2 separate regions of the Homo sapiens genome follow, and region 2 is linked to region 1. The links come from fine-mapping of genetic effects on gene expression. Tissue or cell type: whole blood. Region 1 holds a variant in brackets; the other region holds the start of a gene. All regions are shown on one strand. Distances are between the middles of the regions.

Region 1 (10,515 bases):
GCAGTGAGGCTCTCTCCATCTCCCTCCATCCCTGGGTGGGAAGTGGGCAGTCTTTATGATATGGTAATGAAGCAGCTCATTAAGATGTTATTGTAGTTTCTTTGGGATTCAGACCTGTACATACTAAGGTAGAAGCTTCAGGGAATCCAGCAGAACAAAATTAGGCTGCTCTGGTGTGAGAGGCAGTATTATATGGTGGTTCAAGAGCAAAGACTGAAATTAGACTACCTAGGTTCAAAGACCCTGTCTCCTAGCTGTGTGACCTAGGGCAAGTTACTTAATCACAATTAAGCTTCCTCATCAGGGAAATGGGAATTAAAATAGTACCTAATTAACTGGATTATTGTGAAGATTAAGGGATTTAATATATATAAAGCACTTAGAATAGGCCTGGCAATTAGAAAGCATATGGACAGGTTAACTCTTGTTGTCTTGGTTACTTCTTGTGGCTCCTGTCAAGATCCTACTAGAAAGAGATAAGCCTTGGTCTTAGATAGCTGGGAACAGCATACGGCTTTGTTAAAAGAGATCACGCTCCTCACTGCTCTCATGCCCCATCTCAGCAGACAGCAATCCAAGACTGCTTAGGGTTCGGAATTACAAAACCAAATTCCCTGCTAAGGCTAAAGTTGATCTGAACAAAAGTAAGGGCAAGGCAAAGAGAATAGACATTAGACAGGGACCTGAAAGGATCCAGAAATGGGACTTTACATCCCACAGAGGAAACAGGTAAGGTGTTTCCATACAGTGACAGAGAATAGATCAGTGGCTGCCTAGGGAAGGGGTGGAGGATGGGTGGATTTCAAAGGGTCACCCCTTTTGGGGGTGATTGAAATGTTTACCTTGATTGTGGTGATGGTTTCACAGGTGTATATATTTGACAAACTCATCAAGTTGTATACCTTAAATATGTGCAGTTTCTTGTACTCGAATTATACTTTAGTAAAGGTATAAACAAGAGAGAGCAAGAGGTAGAAGCTGCAATAGCTTCTGTGACCTATCCTTGGGAGTCACACACTCATCATTTCTGCAGCATTCTGCTGGTTACAGTGATCAACCCTGATACAACCTGGGAGGGAAATACATGGTGGTTTGCACACAGGAGGTGAGCATTGTTGGATCCATCTGGGGGATTTCTGGCCATCCCTCTATGTGGAGAGAACAGTATGTACAAGGCCTTGAGGTGGGCTGGTATTCCAGAAAGCCTTAACTGATTAACTCTACTCACCTCTGCTGAAAAGTTGACTGTTACTTGGTGCAATGGTTTTTTTTTTTTTTTTTTTTTTTTTTTTGGTTTCTTTTGTTTGTTTGTTTTGTTTTTTTAAGACAGGGTCTTGCTCTGTTGCCCAGGCTGGAGTGCAGTGACACCATCAGTCTCGGCTCACTGCAACTTCTGCCTTCCAGGCAGTCTCAAGCAATCCTCCCACTTCAGCCTCGGTGCAATGTATGTTAACATATCATCTGTCACATCTTCCAAAATTTGAGTCCCAGGTTCTCCAAAACTTCAATGGGTTAGTTAGACTAACCACTTTCAATGCCTAAGTGTTCTAATATGTCAAGTTCTCCTCTGACCTTATGCTTTGGTTTATGAAGAGTGAAATTATGAGGAGTGTCAGCATGTTTGCAAGCCAATGGGATGGAGTATGATTTAAGAAGCAAGAAAGAATTTTGTTTTTCTTAAATCTGAGACCATAAATTTCTGTTCACTCTGCTTATCTCCAAGGCTGGTCCTGGCTGGAGAGGGGAGAAAAAAGAGAAGGAGAGGAAAAAGCATTGATCAGTTTTAGAATTTTAAGAAAATATTTGCATATTTTAAGAAATTTAACCTAATTTTTTTAACTTTTTACTTTAAAATGATTATAGATTCACAGGAAGTTGCAAAGATGGAACAGACGTGTACTCTGTACCCCGTTCTCCCCACTAGTAAATTTTACATAATTTTAGAACAATAACAGAACCAGGGAATTGGTATTGGCAAAATCCACAGACCTCGTTCAAATTTCACCAGCTTTGCATGTACTCATGTGTGCATGAGTGTTTGAAGTTCTAGATTAGAATAACAACCACCACTACTAAATCATGGACAAGATATATAAAGGGAAGTTTGAAACAGAGCATTTAAGGGAGAGAGAATGAGAGCTATAAACTGCTTATGTTTAAGAGACCCAAGATACTGTGGAAATTGGCTAATCTAAACAAAATATCAATGCACTGATATGGGGAACTGCATGTGGTGAACAGTGCAGTGAGATATTCCTATTGAGGGATCCCATGAGATTACTAAAGGTAAGAAAGTAAGTTATATTTTCTTATAAATAAGACTCTAGGTAAGACCTTGTCTGCCTGAAGAATATCAGAAAACTAGACCATGACCTGAACGCTTGTAGCTGGGGTACAGCCAGGCAGGTGTAAGCCAGAGCTTGTGGAGGGAGGCTGCTAATAGATTGCAGAGCTCCTCTCCACCGTGGCCAGGTTGCAGGATTTCTGAGTAAGGGTGCTGTGAGCTTTTGGGGCAGGGCAATTCTTTGTTGGGTATGTCTTTACATAGTGCCCAGATCGTTAGCACTCTGATGACACCCTGGCTAGCTGGCACTATGGCCACTGTTCATCCAACACATTTCCAAAAGCATCTAAGGGATGTGAAAACATCCTCAATCAAAAACCACAAACCCCTTATTGTTCTTGAGGAAGAATATTCCCTCCCTAGATTCCTCAGTCCCTGTTTCCACTCACAGTTTCCACTCACTCTTTTTTTCCCCCGCCTAGGGACTGCCGATCTTGGAGGATCTGGATTTTTAAAGTTATTTTTGTATAATGCTTTTGTTATGGAAGATGGCAATTGCTTACGCACAACTGCCTTCATCTTAGCTGACCTGAATGGGCCTTAGCTGCCATGAATGGGCCTTAGCTGCCATGAATGGGCCTGACCCCAGACCATCAAAAGTGACCATTACTAAAAGGAGGGAAGGCAGGGTACCATTCTATTACATCTGGAATTAAAAATGAAGGTTACCAGTTATAGAAAAGACTTTCGGACTTTATTCAAAGCATTTTAATAATACTTAGAGAAGATTGATTTATTAAATGCTAGCAACTCTCATTTTAACATTAACTTCCGAACTTCAAGGAGGTTTTAAAAAATTGAATTTTAATTTTTAATTTTTGTGGGTACACAGTAGGTGTATATATTTATGGAGTACATGAGATACTTTGATACAGGCATACAATGTGTAATAATCACATCATGGTAAATGGGGTATCCACCCCCTCAAGCATTTATCCTTTATGTTACAAACAATCCAATTATACTCTTCTGGTTGTTTTAAAACATACAACTAAATTATTATTGACTATAGGCACCCCATTGCACTATCAAATACTAGGTCTTATTCATTCTTTCTATTTTTTGTATCCGTTAACCATCTCCACGTCCCCCCCAACCCTCCCACTACTCTTCTCAGCCTCTGGTAACTATCCTTCTACTCTCTATCAAGGAGGTTTAAATTTCAAGGAAAGGAGAATTCAATCAACGTGGGCTTATTGCTTCTCATGTCAACACTAAGCTATGTATTCCAGACTCTTCAAAAGAAGCATCAGATTTGCTACTTTATTTCAAGGATTCTAAAGTTCCATTGGAACAATACTATATTAACCCTGAAAATAATTAAAAAACAATTTCAGATATAGTTCAGAAGTAATTGTGAAAAGAGGTGAGATTAGGGAAAGATGACTCTGAGTCCAGATAACCCCAAAAAGCTTTTTAGAGAAGGATGAGGGTGGGGAGGCAGGTAGGGGGTTTATAATAGGATTTAAAAAGAGAAGGAAGAGCTATTTAAGGAAATTTGATTACTGCAAGTAACATTCTTCAAAACATTTAAAGAAAAACAAAAGTTTGGCAGGCAAGACTAGAAAAAGAAAACAACACTGGGGAGGGAAGTCACTGCTTCTTTTATTTCCATGACTGTTTTAAAGTCATATTTAGTTTCAGCCAAGGAAGAGCCTTTGACATCAGAGCACACAAAGTACTCTAGGAAATGAAGAGGATGAAAGTTCTACTGCATCAACGCCCAGAACTTTCTCCATTTGGCCACAGGTCGTTCTCATACATGGCCTAGTTTCTATGCACTCTAACTGGGTCCCTCTGAGGCTTGTGAATGGAAAACCCTCTTGCTTTCAAATGCTTGAAAACAAGAAAGATGCTACTATTGATGCCTCAAATACATGTAGGTATTTAGTGGGAAGCAATTAAATGTTTTGAAGGTCATTTCAAACGGAAATTAATCAAAAACAGTATTTTACTCTTTTGTGTATTAGAGTAGGCAAGACCTTGGTGTTTTCATTACATTCTCTGTTTTTATTTGCTGTTTACATTAGGATGTGAATAATGGCTTGGGTAAGGGGAGGATTTGGTACCAACCTAGGCTTTGGTTGCCAAACAGACACCAGAGTAAATTTGTGTGTGGTCAGAATCAGGTTGTAAGGTGCCAACACAGCACATGGCTTCAGTCTTTTTTTCTCTAATTGTAAAAGGACCTTGTCCCCATGGAGGGACCATTGCCTTGGCTTGTGGGGTCTTGAGTGATAGCCACAGTCTTTCTTCAGCACTTTCTCGACCTCATGAAAAGATACTGAAGCTTGAAAAGGGGATGTTCTTTCTGAATAGGAATGGAGAAGAGGGGCCAAGCAAGAATGATTCTATCTGTCTCCTGGCCGTTGATAGTGTCCCTGTACAGAGAGGAAATAACGTAGTATAATATGTAGCTTATGTTTGAATCAGCTTCTTTAAAAATACTGGAATTTTATTTATTTATTTTTGGTAGACACAGGGTTTCCTCATGTTGCCCAGGCTGGTCTCGGACACTTGAATTCAAGCAATCTGCCGGCCCCGCCGGGTGTG[C/G]CGCATGAGGGCGCGGGCCGCCCAAGGACCGCGAGTGGGGCCGCGAGTGCTGAGCCCGGCGCGCCCGAGCCGCTCCTCCTCCCGGCCTGCTCCCTGGGCGGAGCCGGGGCAGTGCGGCTCTGGGCTGGCCGAAGGGGTGGCGCTGCGATCCCGCAGGGCAGCGACGCGACTCTGGTGCGGGCCGTCTTCTTCCCCCCGAGCTGGGCGTGCGCGGCCGCAATGAACTGGGAGCTGCTGCTGTGGCTGCTGGTGCTGTGCGCGCTGCTCCTGCTCTTGGTGCAGCTGCTGCGCTTCCTGAGGGCTGACGGCGACCTGACGCTACTATGGGCCGAGTGGCAGGGACGACGCCCAGGTGAGGACCGGCCAAAGCCTCTCCCGAGTGGGAGGCCGGGCTCGGAGCTGCCGAGGCGTGTCCGGGTCTCCGGGGGTTCTGCAGTGATCCCGGGTCCTTTGTGGGTTGCGTGGAGCTTCCCGAAGGCCCGGCTGCCCCTTACGCAGGGGCTGCGGGTTGGGGAGGAAGAGGCGAGGGCTAAAAAGCCCCTTTGTCTTCTGTACTGGTCGGAAGATGGCATGGACTTGCCATTCAGGCTAGGAAACCTCTCCAGGGAGTGCCAAACTGTTAAGAGAGCACTGGAGTCGGCGGTGCTCCTGAGGACTCTGACATCTTACGCAGGACTCAAGGGATTCTGGTGTTGTCTCAGAGGACGATACTTTGAGAAACAGTGAGCGTCCCCCTGCGTTTGTAAGGGAAACTCCTTTGTAAGTACCGGAAGCCCGGTCGTTCTACTACCTGAAGTAGTCTGTCCTCCACTTCCCACTCCTGCAGTTTTGAAATAAAATCTGAGATAATCCGAAGTCCTTCACCTACTTACTCATTCTAGTCAAACACTAGAAAGAACTAAAAATGGCAGTTTGCTGGAGCGAGATCATTATTGGCATACTGCCTATCTCACTTTATCTGTGTCTTGCTTAATATTTGACATCGTGTACATTTGCTGTATGTTGGCTCAGCGCTTTACACACATAACATTTAACTTTTACAACAACTCTTACAAGGTAGGCATTATTAATCTTATTTTCCAGATAGGGAAACTGATGTTCAGAGAAATTAAATGACCTACCGAAAGCTAGGCTTTGGATCCTTAAGGACTTGGGGAAATGGGGTTTCCCTGGACCAAGTTTCTGGTATAAAAATACTCAAAGCATGTTACAAAGTTTGCTTGGAAGAGATAGTAGCTCGAAAGATAGACTATGTTTGGGGGGGGCGTTATGGGTTGGGCGTTGAGGGGGGTGATATTGATCCCAAGGTGAGAATTGGTTCCTGTGGACAAAAAAAAAAAAAAAAAAAAATCTGGTAATACAGTGGTTTGTGCCCCTCCAAAGCTTAACCCCACCCGAGAAAATATTATTCCTTAGTATTTCATTTTTCTGGTTGGGTTTTCTTGGGTATAGCATGTGCAGCACTGACATTGAGTTCACGAAAAATACACAACATGGACGCCACAGCAGTGCTACAAAACTATGGCAAGTGATTGGGCTTTCTCCTTTTAAAGCAGGAATCCCAAATACTGCACAACTTCATTAACCAAGGGCTTTCTCTTGATCGATTGTTCCACCTCAGCGGGGGAATATGTGTGCCTATTGGCTGCCATTGGCTGCCTTGCAGACGTTGTTTGTGTTTGATCTTTAGTGCTTTTGTGTTCACTTGGACTTGGAGAATTAAACGAAAATAGATTATATTTTATTATTTAATCCTACAAAAAATATTCAACCCATCAAATTATGTCAAGTGCTAAAAAGCAAAATTATTGACAACATCTGAATGAATATCTCTAAGCTACTAAGTTAAAAGTTATTTTCTCATATTAAGGAAAAGTTAAAAGTTAAGATCATTGAAAATTTTAAGAAATTCATTTAATATTTTCAGTTGTGTTTTGTCGGAAAAGAACAGTTTGAAGGATTTTAAATTTAATTACATTGTTATCATTATGTAGTTATATAATTTGCAAATTTGCACATGTAGTTTGATAAATTGCTATTTATCTAAGTAAGTTACATAAAAGTTATTCAGCAAAAATCTGGCGTGGTGGCATGTACCTGCAATCCCAACTACTCTGGAGGCTAAGGTAGGAGGGTCATTTGAGCCCAGGAGTTCAAGACCAGCCTGGGCAGCATAGTGAGACACTGTCTCAAAAACCATAAAAATGTTTTTCAGCAAATACAGTTATAAAGTTAGAAGTTAATAACTTTTAAATTTTAATTTAACATTTAACTTAATTTTAAAATTTAGTCATATGCTTATTTAGTCATATGCTTATTAACTAAGGAGTAAGCTTTTTTTCTTTTTCTTTTTTTTTTTGAGACAGAGTCTCGCTCTGTTGGCCAGGCTGGAGTGCAGTGGTATGATCTTGGCTCACTGCAACCTCTATCTCCTGGGTTCAAGTGATTCTCCTGCTTCAGCCTCCCTAGTAGCTGGGATTACAGGTGCGTGCCACCACGCATGGGTAAGTTTTGTATTTTTAGTAGACCTGGGGTTTCGCCATGTTGGCCAGGCTAGTCTCAAACCCCTGACCTCAGGTGATCCACCCCGCTCTGCCTCCCAAAGTGTTGGGATTACAGGCATTAGCCACTGCGCCTGGCAGGAGTAAACTTTATAGAACTCCTTTTATGTATAAAGCACAGATATATGTACAGTACATAAATGATATACAGTATATCTGTGGAATTAACATTTCACAGGAGAGTTTTAGGGGAAAAAAAAGTCTAAAAAGACTCCTGGTGGAGGTAGGGAGTGAGAAAGAAGAAAAGATTAAAGGAAAATTGAAATAGACTCAGATTCCCAAAACAGCTCAGACTGGAGAGATGGGCAGACTCTATCAAGATGAAAAAAGAAAAAAAAATCCTTCTTGACTTCTCTGTAGGTTTATTATTTTTTGTCACTTAAAAAAATAGCACACTCACATAATACAAAAGTAAAAATACAAAAAGATATATAGTAAAAAGTAAAGAGCTTTCTCTGACCCTTGTGCCCTAGCTACCTAGTGTGCTTCTCTCGAGGCAGCCACCATTTCCTGCCTCCTCTGTATCCGTCTAGAGAAATTCTGTGCATTTCCAAGCATATATCTCACATGGTGATTTTTTTTTTTTTTTAATAGAGAGACAAGGTCTTGCTTTGTCACCCAGCCTGGAGTGCAGTGGCATGATCATAGCTCACTGCAGCCTCGAACTCCTGGGCTCAGGCAATCCTCCCACCTCAGCCTCCCCAGTAGCTAGGACTACAGGTGCAAACCACCACACCTGGATATTTTTAAACTTTTTGTAGAAACAGGCTCTCACTATGTTCCAGGCTGGTCTTGAACTCCTGGCCTCAAGTGATCCTTCCACCTTGGCCTCTCAAAGTGCTAGGATAACAGATGTGAACTGCCAAGCCCAGCCACATATGGTGAAATTTAAGGGTGACTAATTTTAGACATTAAAATGGTCCAGAAAAATCCATGGCACAAGTCTAGAGGAGGAAAAATTTCAACAGCAGCACATGTGAGCAAAACTCAGGTTTTTGTTAACAGTAACCTCAATAGGAGTCAACTGTGAAGTGGCTGCCAGAAAAGATCAGGCAACCTTGGGTTGCATTTGTAGACCTCAGTGTCTGAAGCAACAACTGCAAACAACAGATGTCTCCTGACTAGCTGCTTGTATGTGCCGGCCTCTGTGCTGGGGCACTGGGGACACTGCAGTGACTGAATCAGCCACAGTCCAGGCCCTCATAGACCCTACCTTCTGGGGGACAAGGGAAGTGATTTTTGACATCTCATCCTGCTCTGCACTGTCCAGACCCTACCGAATCCTGTGTCCTGCCCTAGCCAGCTCCCTTTAATAAAGAGGAACATTAACCAACTAGAATTGGTGCAGGTGGGTGTGAGCAGAAGAGTGAGGAAACCTGATACCATGTCATGTGAGGGAAGGTGGCAGAAATTGGATAGGTTTATTTAGCCTTAGAGAAGGTAAGAGATGAAAGGACTTAGGGAAGACATAATGGCTGTCTTCCCTAACAGCTGTGAGGGATTGTCATTTAGAAGACAGGTTTCATTTCTTTTCTTTTCTTCCTGAAACAGCTTTTTGTAAAACAAGAAAGCAGAATTGCAACACAATTTAAATGTCTGTCTAGGTCACAAAAGGGATGCAAAATGTTTGTAATATGATTAGTATGTATTCATATAGTGAGTCATTCTTACACCTATACATAAGATTATTCCATGATTAAAGGTAGCCCAGCTCTAATAACCATAAGCTATATTAGTGGATCCCTTTTCCTATTATAACATTTTAGTATTACTTCTGATATTGATTCCCTTAACAAATGGAGTCTACAAACTGAATTTTAAAAAATTGTTAAAAGTGACTAAAACTCTGTAAACAGAGGAGTTGAGTTTACAAAAAATTCTGGGAGAACAAGCAGGATAAAACTGAGCAAGATTATCAATAAGTGTACATCTGAAACTCCCATTTTTCACAGTTCTGATACTAATACATTCTTAAGGAATTTTGCAAAAGTTAATCTGCTGAGTAGAAATATACCTTGAGACCAAACTCTTTGTAACTGTTCTCTTCCAGATGTGGTACATAAGATTAGTCAAAGTTGGCCAGATGCGGTAGCTCACGCCTGTAATCCCAGCACTTTGGGAGGCTGAGGTGGGCAAATCGCTAGAGCTCACAAGTTCGAGACCAGCCTAGGCAACATGGCAAAACCTCATATCTACAAAAAAATACACACAAAAAAATTAGCCGGGCATGATGGTACACGCCTGTAGTCCCAGCTACTTGGGAGGCTGAGGTGGGAGGTTGGCTTGAGCCTGAGCCGTGGAGGTTGCAGGGAGCCAAGATCATGCCACTGCACTCCAGCTTGGGTGACAGAGCCAGGCCTTGTCCCCTCCCCCCGTCCCCCCGCCAAAAAACAGGTTAGTCGAGCTTAATCTACTCTCATATATTTCCCAAAAGATCTACTCTGTGCCAGAGATAACAAAAATCTGGAGTGAAAATATTTGGAGTTGGTTACTAGTATTTTCCCAAGTACTTTTCCATCCTATTTCTATTTTCCCTTAAGCTTTTCTATTTTAAACACACACGACCATAATTTATATCTTTTCAGATACAAAGTAGGTAATTTTGTAAAAAAAAAAAAAAAAAAGAAGTTTTTTTTTTGTTTTTTGTTTTTTGAGATAGAGTCTCACTTTGTTGCCCAGGCTGGAGTGCAGGCTCACTGCAAACCCCACCTCCTAGAGGTTCAAGCAATTCTCCCTGCCTCAGCCTCCCAAGTAGCTGGGATTACAGGCACCCACCACCACGCCCAGCTAATTTTTGTATTTTTAGTAGAGATGGGGTTTCGCCATGTTGGCCAGGCTGGGCTTGAACTCCTGATCTCAGGTGATCCTCCTGCCTCGGCCTCCCAAAGTGCTGGGATTACAGGCGTGAGCCACTGTACCTGGCCAAAAAGAAGTTTTTGACAACAAAAAATTATCTTCCCAGATTGACAATTCAGTTTCAATGAAAAATCTTCATTTTTATAGTCTCTTTTTGTTTTCAATTGATTAAAGAGAAACCAGCAATTCTATCTTAGTATT
Region 2 (10,515 bases), 72 kb after region 1:
TTTGGATCTATAAAAAGGTATTCACTCAAATTCAAGACTTTTGGAGGGTTTTTGAATAAGAGTGTTTTGTAAGGTCACAGTGTAAGTTAAAGAGGAAAGAAATACAAAGTGGCTCAACAGTCAAAGACAGGTTTGTTTTGGAGAATAAACCTGAGAGAGGCTTCTGGCTGATTTCAGTCAGGAAAGCTCTCTCTTACAGACTTACAGTATTTATTGGTGACAGAACTTATTACAGGTTTGGAATGTTTCTGCATGGGGGAGAAGCTTATGGTAGGGTTGGAATGTCTCTGGTCAGAAGGGAGGTTATCTTGGGGCTGACATCTCTCCAGCCAGGGGGAAGGTTATCTCGGGGCTGGCATGTCTCTGGTCCGGGAGGGGTTTCGAATGTTTCTGGTCAGAGATGTTGTGTGATTTATGTTCATGCTGACCTTAACCATAAGGCTGATGCCCTTTGGATTTTGGTGGGTTTTGATCAAGGTGAAACTTAAAATGATGGTCCTCGTCGAAGTCGAAGAGGGTGATGCTCCTGCTCTGTCAATCCAGACCCTGTAGTTATAAAAATGACGAGGGGCAGTGTGTTCTTTCTGGCTACTTCCTGCTGACAAGGGGACAGACAGTTTTTGGGTCTTGGATTGACTGCAGAAATAACACTGTAGATGTTTTTGGGTAGTTGTGTGTGAAATGGTCATGAGTCTGTCAGCTAAAAATCTTTGAAAAAGGTTAATTAGGCAGGGTAAGAACATTAGTCCTAGGCATATTATTAGGAGAGGGCCCAGGAATGGGGTGACCCATGCTATGATTCTGCTCCCAAACCAAGAATCTGTCTGGTTGTTTTGGTATTCCCTTAGCTTTTTAGACCTTTAAGTTTTTCAGCAGTCTCTTACTAGGCCTGATTGGTTGAGATAGAAACAACATTCCCTACCTAATGAGAGGCAGAGGCACATGTTTGGAAAGGCCCACATATTATCTTTTGTTAGTAACAGTTATTCCTGCTATGAGGATAATAATTAAGCAAAATGCTACAGCAATTGAGATTCCCTGTCAGATATTCCACCCTGAAGGTGCTATAGTATATAGTCCTACTGCAAATAGTAGAGTAAAGCAATTCCCACAAGGCGTAGTAAATAATTTCCATTATATTTAGGACGTTCCTTTGGGCTCTCAGGGGTTGCTTCCTCAGCTTTCCAGGCTTTGACTCAAGTGTGATGTATCCAGGAGTTGATTCCTGTAACAGATATTGTCTCAATTACCCTGGTTCCGTAGACTCACTAGACATGGGGTGAAGGATTCCGGGCACCCTCAGTTATTAGTTGTCAATGCCAGCAGTGAAGAGATTTCCTTCTGTGATGGTTGGGGGGTTTAGAGGCAGCGCCTGATAAAACATCTAGTTTTCAGTTCATAGGACTTTAAGGAAGCACAACTTATTTTAGAAACTTGTAGCCAGAAAAATCAGAATTTAAACTGTAGAAAATACTAAAAATTGGAAAACATGAGGCAAGACTAGAATTTAACAACAGGTGTGCTACAGTTTTTGAAACATAATTTTCTCTCTCCAGTTTCCCACTTATTAAAAGACAAGTCATGGTAGGACTGGTTTGCTTTACTATACTTGGCTTAATTATTTGGATACAGTACAGCAAGAATAATTATTTGTTACACAGGCCTTTTAAATTGGTATTGATTTATCTGGCTCACCCCTTCATTTGGCCAACTCAGCCAAAATGCTTTGTGTTGGGAGCAAAGAAATCACACCAAGGACCTATGTCCAAACAGTACGAGAGATATGGGGTGGATACCTGGAGAACGCTGTGACCACACTATCATATTACAAGACACTGAATGGCTTGCCACCCATTGGGTGCCAATGATCAGTTATTTATTGGCTAGCTCCAAATGGGACATATTGGCTATGTGGCACTAACTTATGGCCGTGGTTACCTCCAGAGTGGTTAGGACAATGTTCCCTATGTTATGCCTGGGCACAAGGACGAGTAATTCAGACCTGCCAAAACCAGCAAACCTTTTTCATTTACAATCTTGTTGGACACATTTGGTATTCTAATGGTATGACCACTTAGCTTCAATCTTTGTACCACAGATAGGTACTGAAGATGTTATATGGCATATAGAGGCTTTAGTGAATTACTCCCAAAAGGTCCTGAATGATAGCTGCATGAGTATTTCCTTGCTAAACAAGGAAGTCATGCTTATGAGGAAAGCTGTGCTGCAAAACCGTATGGCTTTACATAGACTCACGGCAGCACAAGGGAGGACCTGCACCATCATAAAAATGGAATGTTGTGTTTATATTCCAGATGAATTGAAGAACATAATCTGACTTATGACTGATATGAAAACCCAGATATCTGTCACACCCAAAACCTTCGTTAATCAATCAGTTGAGTGGTGGGTTTGGATCCTGGGAAACTTGGTGACAGAAGCTTATTGCTTATATTAGGAATAATAGTTTGTGTTGTGTCCTGTTTCTGCTTACAGTGTTGTTATGGTTATGTGCCTGCAAATATGTCAATGAACTGAAAGGGCTAGGGTAATGATTCCCTAGAGAATTGCTCTAATTGAGAAGGCAGTAATATAGCCTGACCCAGCTTCCAGGTGTGATTTCCTTTTGTTGCTATAAATCTGGCCTAGGTCCCTATATATTTTTTCTTTTTTTTTCCTTTCCTTTTTTACTTCTTTCCTCTTCCTATTTTTTTTTTTTAACCTTCATGGGACATGACCTCTTAGAAATGAGCCTTCCTAGAGACTGGGGACCTGAACTTCTAGGAATAAACCATCCTAGCAATAAGAAAGCAGCTCAAAAAAGGGAGGAAAAACCAACCTGAGGCCAGGAACTCGTCTTCCTTTTAAAATGCTTTCTCCAAAAGATTTTACAGAAAAAAGAAGGGAAATGTGAAAGGAAATTAAATTTTGGGACCCCAAACTCATTTAGCCAAAGGGAAGAAGTCAAGCTGGGAACTGGGTCATGCAAACCTGTCTCCCCCCTTTTGGTTTCTAAATAGGATGGCTACAAGATGAAAAGCTACACACCTCCCCTATATTTTGCCCACAGGGAAATTCCCAGTGAGCTAAAATTTCATCCTGGCAATGTCAATTGACAGCTTACAGGTGCAGTTACCCCTGGCCCACCAGACATAAATGCAAATCTGATTGTTCCCCTACCCCATTTTGTCTGTTATCTTATGTAAAATGCAGATTCCCCTAATATTTTCCTCTGCCCCTTTTATGTCATCTTATGTAAAAAATGCAGATTCACTGAGCCAAAGGCATAAATAACTATTTGCCCCTACCCACCTCTTACATGACAATTGTGTACTTCTCAACATCCTGCCCTTTCCCCTTTAAATTTGGAGACCTCAAAATCATCTTCGAAGAAAGACATAGACTTGCCTCCCGGGCACGTCCTTAACTTTGGCAAATAAATCTCCTAAAATGATTGAGACTTGTCCCATCATTTTTCTCGACTGACACCCACTATAAATTCCCTGGGTTGAAAAACTTTTCTTTTAAAATCAAGTATCAGGTGAATGAAGTCTGCTACTCACATGAATTACTAGAAATAAATTAATTTATTTTACAAAAAAACCTGAGAACCAGTGATATTAAGTGACTTAACCAAGATACAATGTCAGTTAGTGGCAAAATGAGTTTTTGAATCATACCATGCTATTGCTGTTAGGTTTTTTTTAAAGGGAAGGTGGGAGTTAAAGAAAGATGGGGGTGGGGGGGGGCTCTACAGCAACACAAGTATATTGCAAAAACCTGCAGAGGTGGGGGGTGCAGCTTAATGCCAGAGCCCACTGCCGTTCACAGGCTGGGGACTTATAGGTATGGGCAGGAGGGGTCTGGGCTGTCTGGTTTGCTGCCCGGCAGGATATTAAGATGTTCCTATGATCAGGTGGTTTGGCCCTTTGTTCCAGTTGCAGGGTATGATAGGGACGTTCCTTCAGTTGGGCCTTTGCTTAGCAGGGTATGATAAGGATGTTCTTGTGTGTTGTGGTCAGGTGGTTAGGCAGGATGTTTCTCACAGCCCAAACTCGCCTGGAATGTGTCACTTTGACCAAGGTCTGCAAAATGCTGGGGGACTTACAAAATGGTGCAGTTTGGACTAACAACTGCCAAATGAAAGCGAATTTTGTTTTGATGCTAGAGAACTGGAAGGATAACTTGGGGGAATAGGGTTCTTTGGAGAAAAGTGGGTCCAAGAGGAATCTACAAAGTGTAAAAATGGGACGCTTTTGATGGCTAAGCCAGCATGAGGGGGTTGGTATCCAGTACCCTTTCACAAGACAAGTGAGAAACTGTTTAAAAAACAAGGTTCTCACCATCATGAAAGTGAGAACAACCTATAGAATGGAAGAAAATTTGTGCAAATCATATATATATATGACTTATAGCTAGACTATATAAAGAACTCTTACAATTCAATAATGAGAAATCAAATAATCCAATCTTTAAAAAATGAGCAAAGGATATGAACAGACATTTCTCCAAAGATGATATACAAATGGTTAATAAGCACAGAAAATATAAAATGATACTCAACATCATTACTCATTAGAAAAACACAAACTGAAACCATAATGAGGTACCATTTCAAACCTCCTTGACTGGCTAAAATAAAAATGGCAGACAATAATAAGTATTCATGAGACTGTGGAGAAATCAGAACCCTCAAACATATCTGGTGGTTATGTAAAATGATACAGCTCCTTTGGGAAACAGTCTAGCAGTTCCTCAAAAGGCTAAACATAGAGTTACCATATAACCCAGTAATTCTACTCTCAGGTATACACCCAACAGAGATAAAAACATATATGTCTACACAAAAATCTGTACACAAAAGATTCATAGAAGAAATATTACTAACAGCCAAAAAATGAAAACAACCCAAATGTCCATCAATGAATGGATAAATGTGATATATCCACACAATGAAATTAGACTATAAAAAGGAATGAAGTACTCATACATTCTACAACATGGCTGAACCTTGAAAACACACTAAGTGAAAGCCCGTTACAAAAGGCCACATATTGTATTTTCCCGTCTATGTGAAATGTCCAAAATAAGCAAATTTATGGGGACAGAAAACAGATTAGTAATTGCTTATGGCTGGTGGGGTAAGGATAATGGGGGGAGGGAGGTGGTGACTGCTGAGGGTAAAAGGTTTCTTTTTGGGGTGATGAAAATGTTCCAAACTTGACTGTGGTAAGGGTTGCACAATTCTATAAATGGGTGAATTGTATTGAATGTAAATTACATCTCAATAAAGCTCTTAAAAAAGAAAAAGCTTCCCTGATTGGTATTTTCCACAGCAGTTAATAATTAGAAGGCAGCTCTTTAAGTAGGAAATTTAGGAGCAGCCAACAGATGCTACAAACAGTTAAATTCGTGAAAAGGCAACATCTGAACTGGATGCTATGCTAAAGGTCTGGGGATTTGGCGTGAGTGGCGGTGGATACCAAATAACATGAAGGGCAGTCTTTGCCCTAACTGCAGGAATGATTTAATGAAGAAAACAAACACCTAAAAATAGTAAAAAATGAGTAAGTGAAAAATGATGGATACAGAGCAGATAACCAATTCAGCGGCATGGAAAACAACTTCCGATTCACTGGAGTAAATTCTGGTCCTGGAGAGACAAGAGGTTGTGGGGACAGAGGTCGAGATCAGTGGGGAAGGAGCGCTTCACGTTCAGGGGGCCATGAGTTGAACAATTCGGACAAAAGAGGTTTAGTTGGAGATATTGCGAGAGTACAGTTCTACCTAACGGACACAGCTCCGGGTGGGTGTGCCATATTCCATTTCGTACGAGTCTCTTAGAAACAAAATGCTACAATTCAACAGGCTAAAGTAGTCTTTCAAAGGAAAGTTAAAATCACACTGAATTACTATCTCTAATGACTGAGTTCATTAAGCGCAATAATTGCACTTAAAGGTTTTGCAACGAAAAACGAAAAATATGTTTCTTGTGGCAATGAAAGCCCCTAGAACAACTTGGCTCTCCGCACAGGCTTGGACATTAAGATGCCGAAGAAGTCCCGAGGTGGACGTCGGACAACGAACGTACCTCAAGTCACCCGAGGGAAGAGAAGACGCGAAGGCATCCCAGGGACCGCATTTTTGCAGGTAAACTCGGGCTGGGCGCTCCCGCCGGGAGGTTGGTTAGTGCCCGAATGCGGAGGCAGAAAAGCTGCGGCGGCCGAATAACGAGCTCACCGCGGCCCCGCCCGGGCCAGCTCTCGGTTTCCATGGCTAACGTCTACTCCGGCGGCCGCCACCCGGAGCTGAACGGAGCGCGTGCGCGTTCGGGGACCTCGTCGGCGCCTGGCTGGCCTCGCTGCCCCGGTCTGTGCTCGCTCCCGAGGCGGGCCCTGCCGTAAAGCAGGCTTGGCCTAGAGGAAGCAGGGAAATAGCGCGCTTCGTTCGCGCCAGGACTAGGCCAACATCTGCCTGGCCGGGGACGACGGGAGTCGCTCGTGCTCTGGTCTCGCACTGGGCCTAGCAGAAGCAGCAGCGGGGAAAGCCGAGACGCCCTGAACGTTCCCTTGGGCCGGGCCTTTACGCAAGAGCGTCGTTGCCCTGGTGACGTGACGTCCTTCCTCAGGATTGTGCGCCGGGGTGGGGAAACAGACGTGCAACCGCCATTTTGCGCATTAATTTACCAGAGGTCGGGTCAGGCTGTCTTAACGCAGGCAGAGGGGTGTGGCAGATCTCCAACCGCTCGGGGTCCCGTGATTTCCATTAATGAATTCGCACACTGGCGTTACCACTCAACACACCGACGGTAATGAATGTTTTTGAGTGATACTTCATGCAGCCTATTCGGCTTGGACGATTGGGGACTGCATAACGTGATCGCTATCGCCTCAGTTTGTGGCTGCGTTTTAAAATACAAGGAACCAACATGTCCATTATAGAAACGTGTTATTAAGATATTAATAAAACAAGGCAGAGTTCCGGCGTTCCAATTAAAAGGCCATGGCTGATTCATATTAGTGTGGCGGGAATCTTTACAGCCTGGCCGCAAAGACCCCAATTAACGCTAGTTAAAAAGTTATCCCTATACCCAGGGCTCACCTCCCCCATTCTCCACGAAATATGATCCCCCCCCCGCCCCACCAAGTTCTGGACACGTTCCAGATTGCCAACTGGGAGTCCTCAAGACGGCCCCGGAGAGCGTTAACAATGATTGGTCTCAGCTGATTTAGAGGCTCGGGTAAGGGAACTTTGAAGCTAACTTGTCGGTATCAAGGTACCCGCAATTCCCCCATGTGATTGGGTAGATGCCCTAGCAGTTCTGCACACTTCAGCGTCCAAGATGACTTGTGGACTGTTTTGTTTGGATCTCCATTCCTCAAAACTATAAATGCGGCCTTAATTTTTTTTTTTTTTTAATTCTTGGCTCTTGGCTGTCTTGGAAATGCTGACTTTGTATTTAAGTATTTAGGTTTTCAGGTCGTAATAGAAAAATAATTACTGTGTTCATATTAAAAGCCAAAGCTTTATTTATTTATTTTTAAGATATTGTGTCCAGAGCAAAAGTGTAGTGTGTTGAAAGCATGTGGAAGAAAACCCCGGATATACATATACTTGTCTTCAAGGACTTAATTTGCAGGTAGACCCTTTCATAGTTTGGTATCTTCACGATTTGATAGAATATGGGAAAACGTGCTGTTGGTCCATCCATAGTTTTTCTCATTGAAGCTCACTCATTGCGGGTCAGAGTACCACATTAAGCATCTCGGAAGCATCACTTACCGCCAAGAAGTCTGAGTTTCATGTAATTAAGAGTGGAGGCTCCAGAGTCAGGAAGTCTGGGTTGAAACCCTGGCACTACTGCTTACTACTTGTGAGATCTTGAGGTTATGTAATTTCTCTAGTGCTCAGTTTCCCCATATCTTGTAAAATAAGGCAAATAATAGAACTTAACCCGCAGAGAGTTATGTCATTGGATTAAATCAAATAATTGTAAATTGCTTAGCAGAGTAAATGGCACAGCTTAAGTGCTTAGTAAGGATGAGCTATTATCTTTATGTAGAGAGTCTGTATTTATGCTTGTTCTTCTCATGGGCATTACATATGACCCAAGCAGAATTAACATGTTTATTGTTGAAATATCTGCTGTTTTTCAAATATATTTGAACATCGTGCTTTCTTAGAATAAAATTAGTAGGGCATATGGTACAAGCCCTTTGGTTAGCTGTGTATAAAATATTCATTCAACATTTATTGAAATAGTGAAGGGAATAGTGGTTCCTATTTGTCAGGAACTACACTAATTGCTGCAGATATAAAGTCAAATAAAACATGATCCTTAAGGAATTTACCAAAATATAACTTGGACATCAAGGACATAACTTGAACAACAAGGACATCAGTAATTACAGTGTATGTGATAAACAGGTATGCGCTGAGCTTCAGAAACAAAGTGGGACACATAATTCTGGGGAAATTAAGGATGGTTGCAATCCATTTTTAAAGGGTGAGTGGACAGCTGGGCCAGGCGTGGTGGCTCTTGCCTGCAATCCTAGCACTTTGGGAGGCTGAGGTAGGAGGATCGCTTGAGCCTAGGAGTTTGAGGCAACATGGTGAAACCCTGTCTCTACAAAAGATACAAAAAATTAGCCAGGTGTGGTTGTGTGCGCCTGTGGTCCCAGCTACTCAGAGGCTGAGGTAAGAGGTTGTTGCAGTGAGCCGAAATTGCACCACTGCACTCCAGCCTGGACAACAGAGTGAGATCTTGTCTCAAAAAAAAAAAAACAAAACAAAAACAAAAACAGAGTTAGCTGGGAGAAGAGGTATTCCAGGTAGGGGAACATTTATTCTTTAATTCATTCAACACATACTTAGAGCATACATAGAATCAGTACTTTGTGTACCTCATTTAATCTTAACCTTATGAGGTAGCTTATTATTATTTCAAATGTAAGGAATCTGAGCTTGAGAAAAGTAAAATAAGTGATGACATCTGGAGTTGAGTCCGTATCTGTATGTCTTCAAGATTCGTGTATTTTTTCCTACCCTGCTGATTCACATAAAATGAAACAAATTGTGAAAAATCTGGAACTGCTGCTTCAGCCAGAGAAGATGTTTAGCCAGGCATTATCATGACATACGTGTTATTGTGTAATGGTAATGCCCGTTTTCAGTTCATACCCAAGTTAACTTCTCTTGCTAAAAAGTAAAACAAAAGCAAAACCCACACCATAAACCCTCACTCTGCCTTGTTCCCAGAGACCACTGGCCAGAAGTCTCTGAAAATAATGCAGAGCTGCAGCACTAGGTATGGGCCAAAGAGAAGGCAAAATCATGCTCACAGTTCCGGGTGCCTTTAAAGAAACACAGGAGGAATAATAGCTTTGGGAAGAAAGATAATGAATCTACTTTGAGACCTGTGTGTAAGGGGCTGATGCGATATTCAGGTGCCTATGCCCAGTTGGAAATACAGAATTGGACCTATATTACATATTGACCTTGGGAGAGAAGTTAAGATGTAGAATATTCAATAATTTTTTTTAAAAGATTGTTGAAGTAATAAGATTGGAAAAGAATGTCAAGGTTTATATCTTAATGGGACAAGAAGAAAACCGAAGAAGAAAAGGACTATAAAATAAAAAGATTGACTTATATGGCTTATTGAAAGTCACTGTATCATAGATCATGATATGCATCAAACATCATGTGAAAGGACATGTGATGAGTAGAAATTTTAGAGTGTCTGAGCATGTTCGTGAGATTTGGGTTGGGCAAGTTATGAGTTATGAGAATATTAAAGACAGGACGTGCCCAATAGTTAATTACAGTGTTTCATATTGAAACTTTCTTTAATATAGAAACTTTCATATCCCATAAACAATCATAAATAGAACCATCAAATAAACAATATATAATGTAATCATAGCTTTGCGATTGGTTGGTCTCAAGCTTTACTCTAAGATACAATATATTTCTTTTAAATTGCAGTTCTGAAAAATTTACAGTAATTACTGATGGGGAGTGTATGATAAAAGAATAGTTTCAAATTTTGGTTATGATAAAGAATTTTTAGTTTTCTTGTATAGCTCTTAAATTTCACTATTATTCCACAGCAATAACTTCACAGATGAGACTTTATTTTAGAGGTGTTCCAGTTGATATTATTTTGGAACATTGTAACTACTGGAAACTTATTTTGGATAATTGTTTAAAAAAACACAGGTGTTTAAGAAAGAACACAGTAGAATTATTAGTAGACTGGAAATCAGTAAATTGGAATATTTAAAAAGCTAGACTTTAATTTTTTAAATTATGTTACATTTTGTAAAAATTTTAACTTCACTGAAAGATCAAATTTTAATGGTAACAAAACTGTAAACATCTGTCATGCCAGACCCCATTCACTTCAGTATGGATGGCACCAGGTTCAAGAGGCCAAATAGAGACCCAGAGCCAGCAAATGAGATATATAGGGTTTATTGAAGGGAACTTACATACAGAGCACTACAGTGGCAG

The links. PIP is the estimated chance that this variant, and not a neighbour inherited with it, causes the effect.
Region 2: PCNX4 starts here. The variant in region 1 is fine-mapped to the expression of PCNX4 in whole blood (TOPMed, PIP above 0.99).

Annotation. Positions count from the first base shown.
Region 1 is chr14:60,159,911-60,170,425 of GRCh38, reverse strand. DHRS7 (dehydrogenase/reductase 7) reads left to right here and starts at 5,028. Exons shown (of 7, transcript NM_016029.4): 1 at 5,028-5,249. The coding sequence starts at 5,117. It also overlaps the pseudogene SCOCP1. RefSeq lists a silencer at 4,795-5,064 and enhancers at 5,265-5,314, 5,505-5,564. The variant C/G (reference allele first, on the strand shown) is at 4,898.
Region 2 is chr14:60,087,996-60,098,510 of GRCh38, reverse strand. It overlaps PCNX4 (pecanex 4), which reads right to left and starts at 6,588. Exons shown (of 11, transcript NM_001330177.2): 1 at 6,092-6,588. PCNX4-DT (PCNX4 divergent transcript) reads left to right here and starts at 6,765. Exons shown (of 5, transcript XR_943918.4): 1 at 6,765-6,808. RefSeq lists enhancers at 3,519-4,103, 3,886-4,180, 5,761-6,394, 6,358-6,547, 6,638-6,767 and a silencer at 3,886-4,180.